Homo sapiens: one gene and its partners. The protein of the gene in region 3 purifies or fractionates together with the protein of the main gene of each other region. This does not show direct contact. Each region holds a gene or a part of one and is shown on either strand. Other genes may lie near its edges.

Evidence for each region.
Region 1: the proteins of PALMD (region 3) and EIF5B purify together in Homo sapiens (affinity purification with mass spectrometry, with the first as the bait; one study listed by BioGRID). This does not show direct contact.
Region 2: the proteins of PALMD (region 3) and SUCO purify together in Homo sapiens (affinity purification with mass spectrometry, with the first as the bait; one study listed by BioGRID). This does not show direct contact.

The regions. Positions count from the first base shown.
Region 1 is NC_000002.12:99,392,752-99,396,405, reverse strand, and holds part of EIF5B (eukaryotic translation initiation factor 5B), read right to left. Parts: intron 3,440-3,654; coding exon 3,308-3,439; intron 2,140-3,307; coding exon 2,008-2,139; intron 1,898-2,007; coding exon 1,821-1,897; intron 1,688-1,820; coding exon 1,523-1,687; intron 1-1,522. UniProt on the Homo sapiens protein: Plays a role in translation initiation.
Region 2 is NC_000001.11:172,531,571-172,535,324, forward strand, and holds the start of SUCO (SUN domain-containing ossification factor isoform 1 precursor), read left to right. Parts: upstream 1-1,579; 5' UTR 1,580-1,606; coding exon of another isoform or gene 1,607-1,865; coding exon 1,866-1,927; intron 1,928-3,754. UniProt on the Homo sapiens protein: Required for bone modeling during late embryogenesis. Regulates type I collagen synthesis in osteoblasts during their postnatal maturation.
Region 3 is NC_000001.11:99,663,055-99,666,708, reverse strand, and holds part of PALMD (palmdelphin), read right to left. Parts: intron 1-3,654.

The DNA of each region.
Region 1 (3,654 bases), on a different chromosome or scaffold from region 3:
GTACCTGGTGACAGGCAGGTCTTCGTTAGGCACATATGTAGGCTACTGGGGGATCACATAGGCATCAGACCGTATTATCACCCTCCTTTTCTCCACCACGTTCCCAAACCATTGATCCAAAAGGCCACTACATAACTACCCTGCTTATTGAGCACACGCTTAAAATGCTTTAAAAGTTTCCAGCAGTCTTGTTAAGTAGAATTCTTCTCACTTCAGGTTTCATGATCTAAAGTGAGCATATACCAGTCTAAATCCTAATATTTACTAGTAAGCTCCACTTAAAAATGTATCCCAAACTACGCCATCACTCCTATCATCACTGTGGTCTGAATCACCTAGACCTCTTGCTTGGACTGTGGGAGCCTCCTGACAGGCTCTTGCCACTGACTTCCTAACAACCCAAGGTCCACATAACAACCCAATTAACCAGTCTGATTGTGAACACACAGCCTTGGCAATGGCTTCTTGCAAAACTCAGAGAAGCTCAATCCCTCCCATGGCCTGTAAGATCCTTGACGATACAGGTCCTGCCACCCTCTCTGACCTCATTTATCACTGTCCCTTCTGGTCACTCTGCCTCGCACTGCTGTTCTCTCTGGACACTCCCCATGTGCCTGTGTGGCTTACTCTGTCTGAAGAGGTGAGATGCCTTCCCAAACCACATCATTAATCACAGTCCCTCCTCTCCTTATCTAGGCCCTTCCCTGCTTTATTTGGTTTTTCAGCACTTCTCAACATGTGTCAATTGTCCTGCAATAAGAGCATGTCCCAGACCAGGCACAGTGGCTTACACCTATAATCCCAGCACTTTGGGAGGCAGAGGCAGGTGGATCACTTGAGCTCAGGAGTTCAAGACCAGCCTGGCCAACATGGCGAAACCCTATCTCTACCAAAAATACAAAAAATTAGCCAGGCATAGTGGTGTGAGCCTGTAGTCTCAACTACTCGGGAGGCCAAGGTGGGAGGATCACTTGAGCCCAGTAGGCAGAGGTTGGGGTGACCCATGATCATGCCACTGTACTGCAGCATGGGTGACAGAACGAGACCCTGTCTCAAAGGGAAAGGAGGAGGGAGGCTGGCCTGGTTCTCTGCTGATGCCTCCTCTACCACTGCAGCAATGTAGGTACTGTGAGTGCTTGAGTGAAAGTTTGGTAGAGGAATGGACTTCTCTCCCACAGAATCTCTTATTTCCCGGTTTTCCTCACTCAAGTTTTGTTACTTCCAATCTATATAATCCCAGATGAGCAACATAAAGTCCCTACATTTAATAACTACGAACCCATTAACAAGACCCAAGTCTGCCAAGATTATTAAACTGAAGTCACAGACAAGACTTGTTTGCATACTGCTGGAATGTCCCCAGTATGTTGGGTTTCTGGTTTGTAACACACCATTTCAGGATGCAGCCTCTGGTAGATGAGTAAATGCCATGATTTTGCTGTTTACAGCCCTTTCTGGAATTCAGTAATTCTCAATCATGTTCATTAACAAAGACTCAAAGTAAATAAAAACAGTAACTTACTTAAATTCTTCTTGTTTCTGTTTCTTGTAGTCTTGTCTATATTTTGTAAAGGCATCAAATAAATGATAAATAATTTCTGCACTAAAAATTCTAACTCCTAAACTATCAGCCATTTCTTGTGCATCTCGTTCAATTCTCACATCGAAGGCCAAAATTACTGCATACCTAAAAGGTTAAAACACATCAAAGACCATTCAGTGAAAAACAGAGTATGTCACAGAGGACAGTTTTTTAAGATAGGACAGTTTTAAGATAGCTACGTAACATGAAAGCCTTCATAGCAAGAGAAATTACTTACTGAGGGTCATGTTCCAACATCACTGAAGCCTTCATAACATCTTTTTTATGCACTGGGCCAATGTTAATTCCTGCATACTGAAAAAATGGGAGTTTCCATGTTTATCTGTATGTATCAGGTAATGGCGATGGCACCAAAAACCACGACCAACCACCATTCACTTGTGGAGCGAGTTGTAGTTACTTACGGGCACTTCTGATGTTTTCAGAAATTCCAGTAGAGCTTCCAAAGAACCCAGTGTAGATGCCTGGACATAGACTCCTTTTTCTTCTAATTTGATAGCATTTAGTGTCTGCTTTAACTCATGGATCAATTCATCCTTGAAAAGAAATCAGATTTGATAAGGTTGTCAACACACCTCTATCCTCAGCAGTCTAGAATTAAATTGTGTTTCTCTCTTTGGTTAAGTACTCATCTGCAAATATGAAACTAAGGCTTAGATAGAGCAAGGCATCACAGAACCTGTGCTGGAATGAAGGAGGAGATTTCGGGGCCATACCCTAACTGTATTTCGCTTCACCTTTGTCTTAGGTTTACTAACTTTGAAATATGTTTAATCTCCGCTCCACTTGGCAAATACAGTAGATGGGTGGGCAGAATTAAACAGTAGAGAAGAAAAATTTTTTTAAAGTTAAAAAAGTACCACATAAACGTAATGTGTTATGATAGCCCAAAAGTTCAGCTTGTCTGTGTTAACTAGGAAATACCATAATCTCATGATCTCAGCAGCTCCTTCCTCCATCACTGCTTGTCGGGAAATGGAAGAAGAGATTTTTAACCAGAAATAAGTAAAACAAGTTTATCAATGCCACTGAAGGGACGTAAGTCCACTCCATACTCAGGACTGGGTGAAGAGACAGGCCTGCCCTATTCTCTCACTGGCCCTAAGATAGCTTATTCCCAACAGCATGACTTGATGCTGCCTAAATAATAAACACGGCCCCAGGACACAAGAGCCATGTGCTGGGAACAGTTGTATTTTCTCTTTGGCAAATGAACAAACTATGGCTCAAAGTCCACTTTTATGAAACTACAATGGACATGGGCCAAAAAGAATATACAATTTCTAGCTTTTTTTTTTTTAGACAGGGTCCTGCTGTCACCCAGGTTGGAGTGCAGTGGCACGATCTTGGCTCACTGCAGCCTCTGCCTCCCAGGTTCAAGTGATTCTCCTGCCTCAGCCTCCCAAGTAGCTGGGACTACAGGTGTGCATTCACCATGCCCAGCCGACTTCTAGCTTTTGACTCATTTTTTTATTTGAATAAAATGCATTATTTTTATAATTCTAGTACATATAAAAATTATACCAATTTCTATGATTGTACAAACTGAAGTAATTCAAAAGCATCAAGTTTGCTAAGAGGCCAAGAAATGGCAGGCTTCACAAAGACAAAGCCAGTTTTGGTCACCATCCCTAGCATGTGCAATGCTGACACATGCCAGAACTCAAATAGCTTTTAAGGAAAAAAATTTTTAAATGAACTTACTTTAAGAACAGGGATTTCATCTTCTTTATAAGCCACAAGGAGGGGTAAACCAGCCAATGTTTTCTCCAGGTCTTTTCCAAGAATCTTTACCCCCTGAGCTGCTTCTACTTCTTTATGCTTTTCATACTGGTTCTACAGAGATAAAAACATTTGTTACCAAATGTACTTTAAAAGTGGTTAGCAGTAGAAGATGATATAAGAGAATCTCATCATGATATTAGAGAGAGGTTTCTTAAACGAGGCACAAAAAGCAATAATCACAAGACTGATAAATTTAACATTAAAATTAAATATTTCCATTTCTCAAAATACCACAGGAAAAAAAAAGTCACAAGAGTAGAAGATAT
Region 2 (3,754 bases), about 73 Mb from region 3:
GCTGAGGGATACCTCAGCTGTTTCCTATCCTGAATAAAAGTTCCTGGAGTAAGAGGAAAAGAGTGTCCAACATGGTAAAGAATGTCAATTTATCCCTACCCTTTCATTGCCCCTACTTTCTTTTAAACTTGCATATTAATCATTTGATACTGTTTTTGGGTGAGATAAATACTTGCTTCCCGCAATAGGTGACAGATGAAAGGATTTTATTGTCATATACTAAGAGTGGCATCAGCAGATAAGTGGAACTGTACCTAATTACTGCCAGAAAAGGCAGTTCAGGGTGAACTCCTTTAAAACAAAAATTATCACCCTTTGTATAATTTCTCTAACATCAAATTGACTTATATCCAAGAATCACAGAGCGGATCAAATCATTCAGTTCTTTGGGACTATAATTAACATCCAATTCAACTTAGAAGGTTCATAAGGAAATTCCGCGGCTCAAAATTAGGCGTTAGGTGGGCATTTTACTGAGGGTTTTTTCCCTACGGCCACATGAACAATAAGTAACCCGTCCTTTAAACATTTTTCACACTAAACATTATGCCATGTTCCAAGGCACAGACCATTGCAGCCTCCGTCCCCTCAGCGGCGTAAACACTTGGAATGGGCATGCTGCCCCGTTACTTAGTATTGAGAAGTGGTCACTTTTTGCTCTTCTTAGGTGAGTGTAAGCGACTGCCTTCCCCACTTTAGGTGAACCCCAGGACTTGGAGCGTCTGTGGGTGCTCCTCTAATGGGGACAACTCCTCCCTTCCGACTCCATCGCAGAGAACCCAAAGTTCGAAACCAACAGAACGAAAAGCAACGAAGCACACTTAAAGTGAGGAACCCGGCAAGCGGCGAAATTCTTGCTGAAGAGAAGAAAAAGCGAAAGGTTTTCCGCTGCAACCAATCAGATGAGAGGATTCTTGGCACGCCCCTTTCTATCTACCAATCAACATCTAGCTCAATGGGGCAGTCCATTGCCACAGGGAAAGGGCTTGGTGCAGCTTCCCTCACAACACACACGTCATTCTAGGCCATTCCACGAACTGTGCTCAAAAGAGGAAAACAGTGCAACAGTTCCAAAGCTGATCAGTCTCGTGGTGAGCAGCGAAACTATAGACTTCTCTAACAAAACCATGGATTCTAGGAGGGACTGGGAAAGAGAAAAACGAATTCTGGAAGGCAAACTACAACTCCCAAAGGCCCTTGCGCGGACTCAGCGCGCGAGGGACGAAGGGCGGTCCACTGTAAGGGGAAATGCTGAGGATCACTGGGCTCCTCCCGGCTTTCTGAACGCAAGCCAGCAAGTGGGCGGGACCTGGGGCGGGCGGAGCGGCGAGAGCATCTGCTCCTGCGCTTTGTGGTCTCCTGCCTCCGGCTTCTCCGCCTGCGACGTCGAAGGGGGCGTGGCCTGCGCAGAGGCTGGTGGGGGTGCGGGCGCCGCGGGACTTGGGTGACGCGTCCCTTTCCAGCTCAGCGGTGTGTGAGGTGTCGCGGCCCCGCCGGCGATTGGCTGTTGAGAGGCGAGTACGCGGCGGCCGTTGGTCGCTGGCCTCACGGAGCAAGGCCCCCGGCGGGCGGGGAGGATATGGGGCGGCAGTGGCGGCTGCAGGAGGCGGGCGTGGACGAGCCGGTGGCTGCAGCGGCGGCGGTCCCCGGAGTCCTGTGAAGCGCCCCTGTCCGCGCCTCTGTGGGGCCCTCAGAGAGGGCTGCCAGGACGCGAGCCACTGAGGAGCCGCTCAGCCAGCGCCATAGCCCTTAGGACTATCGGTCACATTCTCGCGCTCCTGCTCCGGCTCCTCCATCTTGGCCTCGGCAGTGGCGGCTGCCGGGAGGATGTGCCGCCTTCTGGCAGGGGGAAGAAGGAGGAGAAGATGAAGAAGCACCGGCGGGCCTTGGCCCTGGTCTCCTGCCTCTTTCTGTGCTCTCTGGTCTGGTGAGTAGCCGCGACGACAAGGGAGTTCCCGTGAGGGGAGTAAATGGGAGGGAGCAGCCCAGGTCACACCCCCTGGTCATTTTGGCTTTTAGGGTCCGGGTTTCCAAGGCCCCCGTGGAAGGGACAAACCGATTACTTCTCGACTCTCCATCTGACTGGTCTGGTAGTGCTCTGTGCGGAGATTTTCATGGTGTATTTTGGAATTTACAGAGACTCAGTGGGAGAGAGAGAGGTGCCAAGGTAGAGGGAACCACCAAGTGCCTTTGTACTCAGTTCCTCTACCCCTTGGAGACGGTGCAGGGTTTGGGGTGGGTGTTCAGATTGATGGTAAGTAAGTTGCTCCGATTTGCCGCCAGTCTTTGCGTTCTTAGTGTGGTAAGGGGATAAAGCACGTCGGATGTGATGCGTTCCGGACGTGCGATTTTAAAACGTGAGTGGTCATGAAGGTAAGAGTAATGTATAAGCAGTAGTTCTCCTGGACATTTCTCGCACAGCGTTTGATCCCAAGTACACTCGGGCCGCTGTTTTTGGAAACTTGGGGGGCGTGTGTGTATGTGTGTTATGAAGCACTTTTTCAATTGGTTTGGTGGAGAGGGTGTCTTAGATGTAGTGTGTGTAGTAGTTTTTGGTAATGCCCCTTAGTGACGGGAAGGTAAATGCTGTATTTTCAAGGCGGGAAGAGTGCTTTGTCCCTAAAGCACTCCTTAAGTTTTACGGAGTTTCTGTTAATCCCAGGCACTTCTGGAGTTTTTTGAGGAGCAGAGAAAGCTTGTAAGTCGAGGGACTGCTGTCACCGTACTTGGAAAAGCCATTCTTTCCTCCCAGGGAATTTCTTCAAAGATGTGTGACAATTGATGACTGAAAAGATGCTTCTTCAGTCTAGGCGATTTGCTGTTTGTTATATTAAAATAGAAATTAAGTTTCCTGTTTTGCTTATTTCTGCAAAGCACCAACACTATTTTCATTTTTATGGATGCCTTATGGATTCCAGAAGCACTGAAATTGTAGAGTTGTTGCTCACATAAAATAATACATAAACAAGGGGAAGAGAAAACACTCGCCTGGCTGAGGGATTTTTATTGGAAGAATGATAGAAGTTTTTGAGAACAAAAACAATTGACTTATTACCTTTCATTCTGAATCCTTTTAATACCCGTCTCCTGTTTTTAATAAAATCCTCCCCTTTCTACTTACTGTGTTGGGTACGGAGAAGTGCCTGTAAGAGATAAATCCACTCACCTCATTTTAAATTTAAATTTGTAGATACTGAAGCTTGTATTCATTTCCATCTCTTTCTGGGGCTGCCTAGTTATATTTGTAGACTGTGTATTTTCTTTCCTCTTTCTTCTTGGTCTTGCCCATCTTTAAACCATGTTATTCATCATCAAAAGTTTCTGAAATGGCTAATAAGGAAAAGGTGAACACTTTCATTCAAGTTTAAAAACACACCAGTATCTCTGGCTTTTTTTAATTTTTTAATTGGATGGTGTAAACGAAATCAAGCAATAGAATGTGATTCTTACAATCATTTGTAAATTTAAGTTAACTCTGCTTCTATTTCTTTTGGGAATTTCTGGCTATCTTTTGATTAAGCTAACCCTCAGTATGTTTTCTCACCTTCAATCATTAGCTCTAGTGAAGAGCTAATGAATTTCCCTGTTAGGGAACAAATCGGTTGGCCTGGTATTGAAAGTAGTAGTAATAAACTTCTGTCAAGTTTTTTAACTCCTAGTGAGGAAAATGGATGTGGAGAGTTTAAGAGTGTGAACATTTTAAGAAACTTTAGCTTAAGAAACTATTGGGTTAGTATATTTTGAGATTTGTTTA
Region 3 (3,654 bases):
CTCCTGGAATAAAAGGGCTCTCATTATGTATCCAATCTGCCCTATCAATTATTTGTTCAGTTATTCATTGTTAATTATTCATTGGGGATTCACTATATTTAAAATCTGTGAGGAGAGAATGGGAACTTTATTTTCTGGGACTTCTTTCTCTTATATTGAAATTTAAATGAGAGTAAGTAAGAATAACTTTGTGTGTTTGTGTGTGGGTGTGTTTTTTTAAGGATGCTAGAATAAATACCACTGAGATACAAGTATCTCTGAATTAAGAAAACATTTAAAATTAAGTTTAGTTGTGATAGATAATTGCCAAAGGATGATTATTTTTTACTGATACCACTGAGATACAAGTATCTCTGAATTAAGAAAACATTTAAAATTAAGTTTAGTTGTGATAGATAATTACCAAAGGATGATTATTTTTTACTGAGGCAATGACTTTTAAATCTTTTTTTCTTAAAAAAAAAACCAATATAACATTATAACTTACAACATTACAAACAAATGTTATATGGAACTATAGTTTGGAAAACAGATGAATTCTGGACTGCTCTAATTGAAGAAGTGAAGGGGCCTGAAAGCTTATGGATACACAGAACATGGTTTGAAAACCACTAGATTTAGTAAATAACAGCTTCACCCCAGATCATCACATTTGTACTGGCCTTTTCAGAATCTTAAGCAACTGCATGTGGACGATATACATCACAAGAGCAATTTGTATTACTCCATTCTGTGGCCAGAGATTCTTTACCCCAGTGTTATCTTAACCATTTATTATAGCTGTTTAGCTGTTTGCAAAAATGTTTTCCTGCAGACCCAGTAAATATGATTAACATTGGTCAAGATTCAGCTCCTGGGGTCAAAGATGCTAAGAAACTCTGAATATAGCAGCATTTTAATAATTTACTTTGATTCTAATTTATTTTTATCTAATGGAATTTTAGCTAATGCATAGGAAAGAAGACAGTAACACCTATAGAAGTAAGTTTTACTCCTTACAAACCACCTATAAGGAAAGTTCCAGCCAATGACACACATAGCTATATAAGAAACACTCAGATGGGGTGGTCTTATGAGGCTGAATTATAGAGAGTAGCGAATCATTCTTGTGATGTGATTAGGTTAACTTGGGGCTATATTCTTGGTTTTTAGTCTAGTTAGAAATAATTTTAATTTTAGTCTTGTAAAACTTTGTTCATACTTCATAAATTTTCATTTATGCCTCGTGGAGAACTCTTTGAACTTAAATATAAAATATGCAATTTGGATGTGCAATCAAAATGATATATGATGCAATCACATATATACTGTAGTAATCAAAAGAGTTATTTTGCTTTTATGTCACAGTTTAGACTTGTGCTTTAGTGGATGAGGCTAATGAGTATAATAAAATCTACTTTACAATGAAATTCAGAATTGAAAGCCATATGAACTAAATGAAAATATGTGACATGCAGGTGATAGGTCTTTCTGCAGTTTTTTTAGGAAAAGGTTTTCCTGAGCACTTCTATATCTACCCAGAAGTTACAGTAGAGTAGGAATAAATTGGTTTTTTGTAGATTGAATTGAACGGACTCATGGAAATCAAAAATTTTTCAGATTGACTGTATTTTGTGTTTCCTGGTAACATGAGATTGTGATCATATTACTAGGCAAGAAGATCCATACAGAAAAAAAATCTCTGTATGAGTAGTTTGAATATTAAGATGTAAAAAATGTCCCAGAAATTCCCTTGCTAGCACATTATGAGAATGATCATCAGGTTCAGGAGCTAAAGAATATCAGAGGGAGTTACTACAACTATTTTGAAATGTGTGTATTCTGATGTAGGAGGAACACTTTGTAAATGTTTATGCTTATGTTGTTTAATGTGTGTCACTGAAGTATAGTGAACTAGTTTGCAATCAGGAAAGTGGAGAGGATAGTCATGAAGACTAGGACGAATGGATGAAGAAAATAAGAGACAGGCTATAGAGGCCAACAGAGCTTTTTAATTTGGTGAAGACATTGTAGAATTATTTTAAAAAATACTTTTGCACATTTTGAACCCCATTTTGGAATTATGCCTTGTTGCTGTTTGGTATAGACAACTATTTTTTGCAAAACTTGGAAGAATGTGCTCTACTGAAATAGCCACTCTTTCTTCTCTGTGCCCTGTGCAGTTTATGCCTCCCATACAGTGTTTATCACAGAATAACTGTTATTATGAGTTTATGTATCAGTTACCATCTTAAGGACGCAGGCCAAATTTCACTTGTTTTATATTCTTAGTGTCTAGCTTCATAGCTTGTACATAATATGTACTTAATAAATATTTATTGACTAAAGGCCCTATATACATCCATATAAATTCTACTTACCAGTTAAGACTCAGCTTGAATCCCATACCTTTAATAGTGCCTTCTTGACCATCCCAGATTAAAGAATAATTATACTGTAGTTTAAATTAAAACAACTATCATTTATCTTGTTTATTTAATCTTGAATTTCCCAAATTAGGACAATGTGTCATTTCCCCCAACTCCTAGCCCTGCTCCATGCCACACACACCCCTTTTTTCCAGTGAACAGCTTGGGAAAGTGGATAGCACTTTTGTGCAGAGAAAATTGAAACCTTTTGCTCCAGGTATAAGCATCCCTGAACCAGAGTGCACGACTGGCAAAGGAATGTGGACAAGATTTTAGCACCATCATTTCAGGTACCTTTGTGCAGTACACAATCTGCACAACTGTATATGGCAGTCCAAAACATGATAAATGTTTTGATTGGATTGGATCAGGAGAGGTCTCCTGTGTTCTGGAGAGCAAACCAATAAGGAAGATCATCTACTACTTTCCAGACTGTTTTTGGCAAGTGCTGGAATGAGGTGCTACTTCAGAAATGGACCTTTCAGTGAGTCAGGCTTCTCATGCGAAACTTACTTCTAGAACGAACTAAGGGGATATTTAAATCTTCTCTTCTACTGTGAGCTCCACTGTTTTGTGGCTACCCATTCTGCAAGGATAACAATTGCCCATTCTCAAGGATAGCTAGAGAGCTATCATTTTACTCAGAGGCAGGAAGTAGTTCATTGGGAGATCCAGATTGTGTGTATTGTGTGTGTGATTGTGTGTGTGTAAATTGTGCAAGTGTGTGTGTGTGAGAGAGAGAGAGAGGAAAGGAGAGCAAATGACCTCTGGTTTTGGAGTGAGAAATGGCCTATCTAAAAAACTTTCTAGATTTGACTGTTGACTTCATTTGAATTGCACTGGAACAACTTGGAACTTTTTTTTTTTAAATTTCATTGATTTCCTAGGAGTACACACTACATTTCTTGACTATGTATACTACTCATGTAAATTCAATGTGACATATTGGAAGGGGAGCAGACTAACTGTGCTTTGAAATTATCCATCAAACATCGGAAATGTCAACTTGTTTAGAAGCAAAGAAGCAAACAGAATCCAGAGAATGAGGCTAATTGGAATCTTAAATTATGTTTTTTTTCAGAGGCAGGTACTTGTTCCATTAGAAAAATGAAGTCAGTTGCATTCAGCAAGTTTAACTTAAATTTGTAGACCCCTTGAGTGTGCAGCTTTGTATCATTAAGGGGATTCATTAAATCTATTGATAGCAGCCCTGTCAGATAAGTAGTTTCCTGCTTGGGCCTTTTCA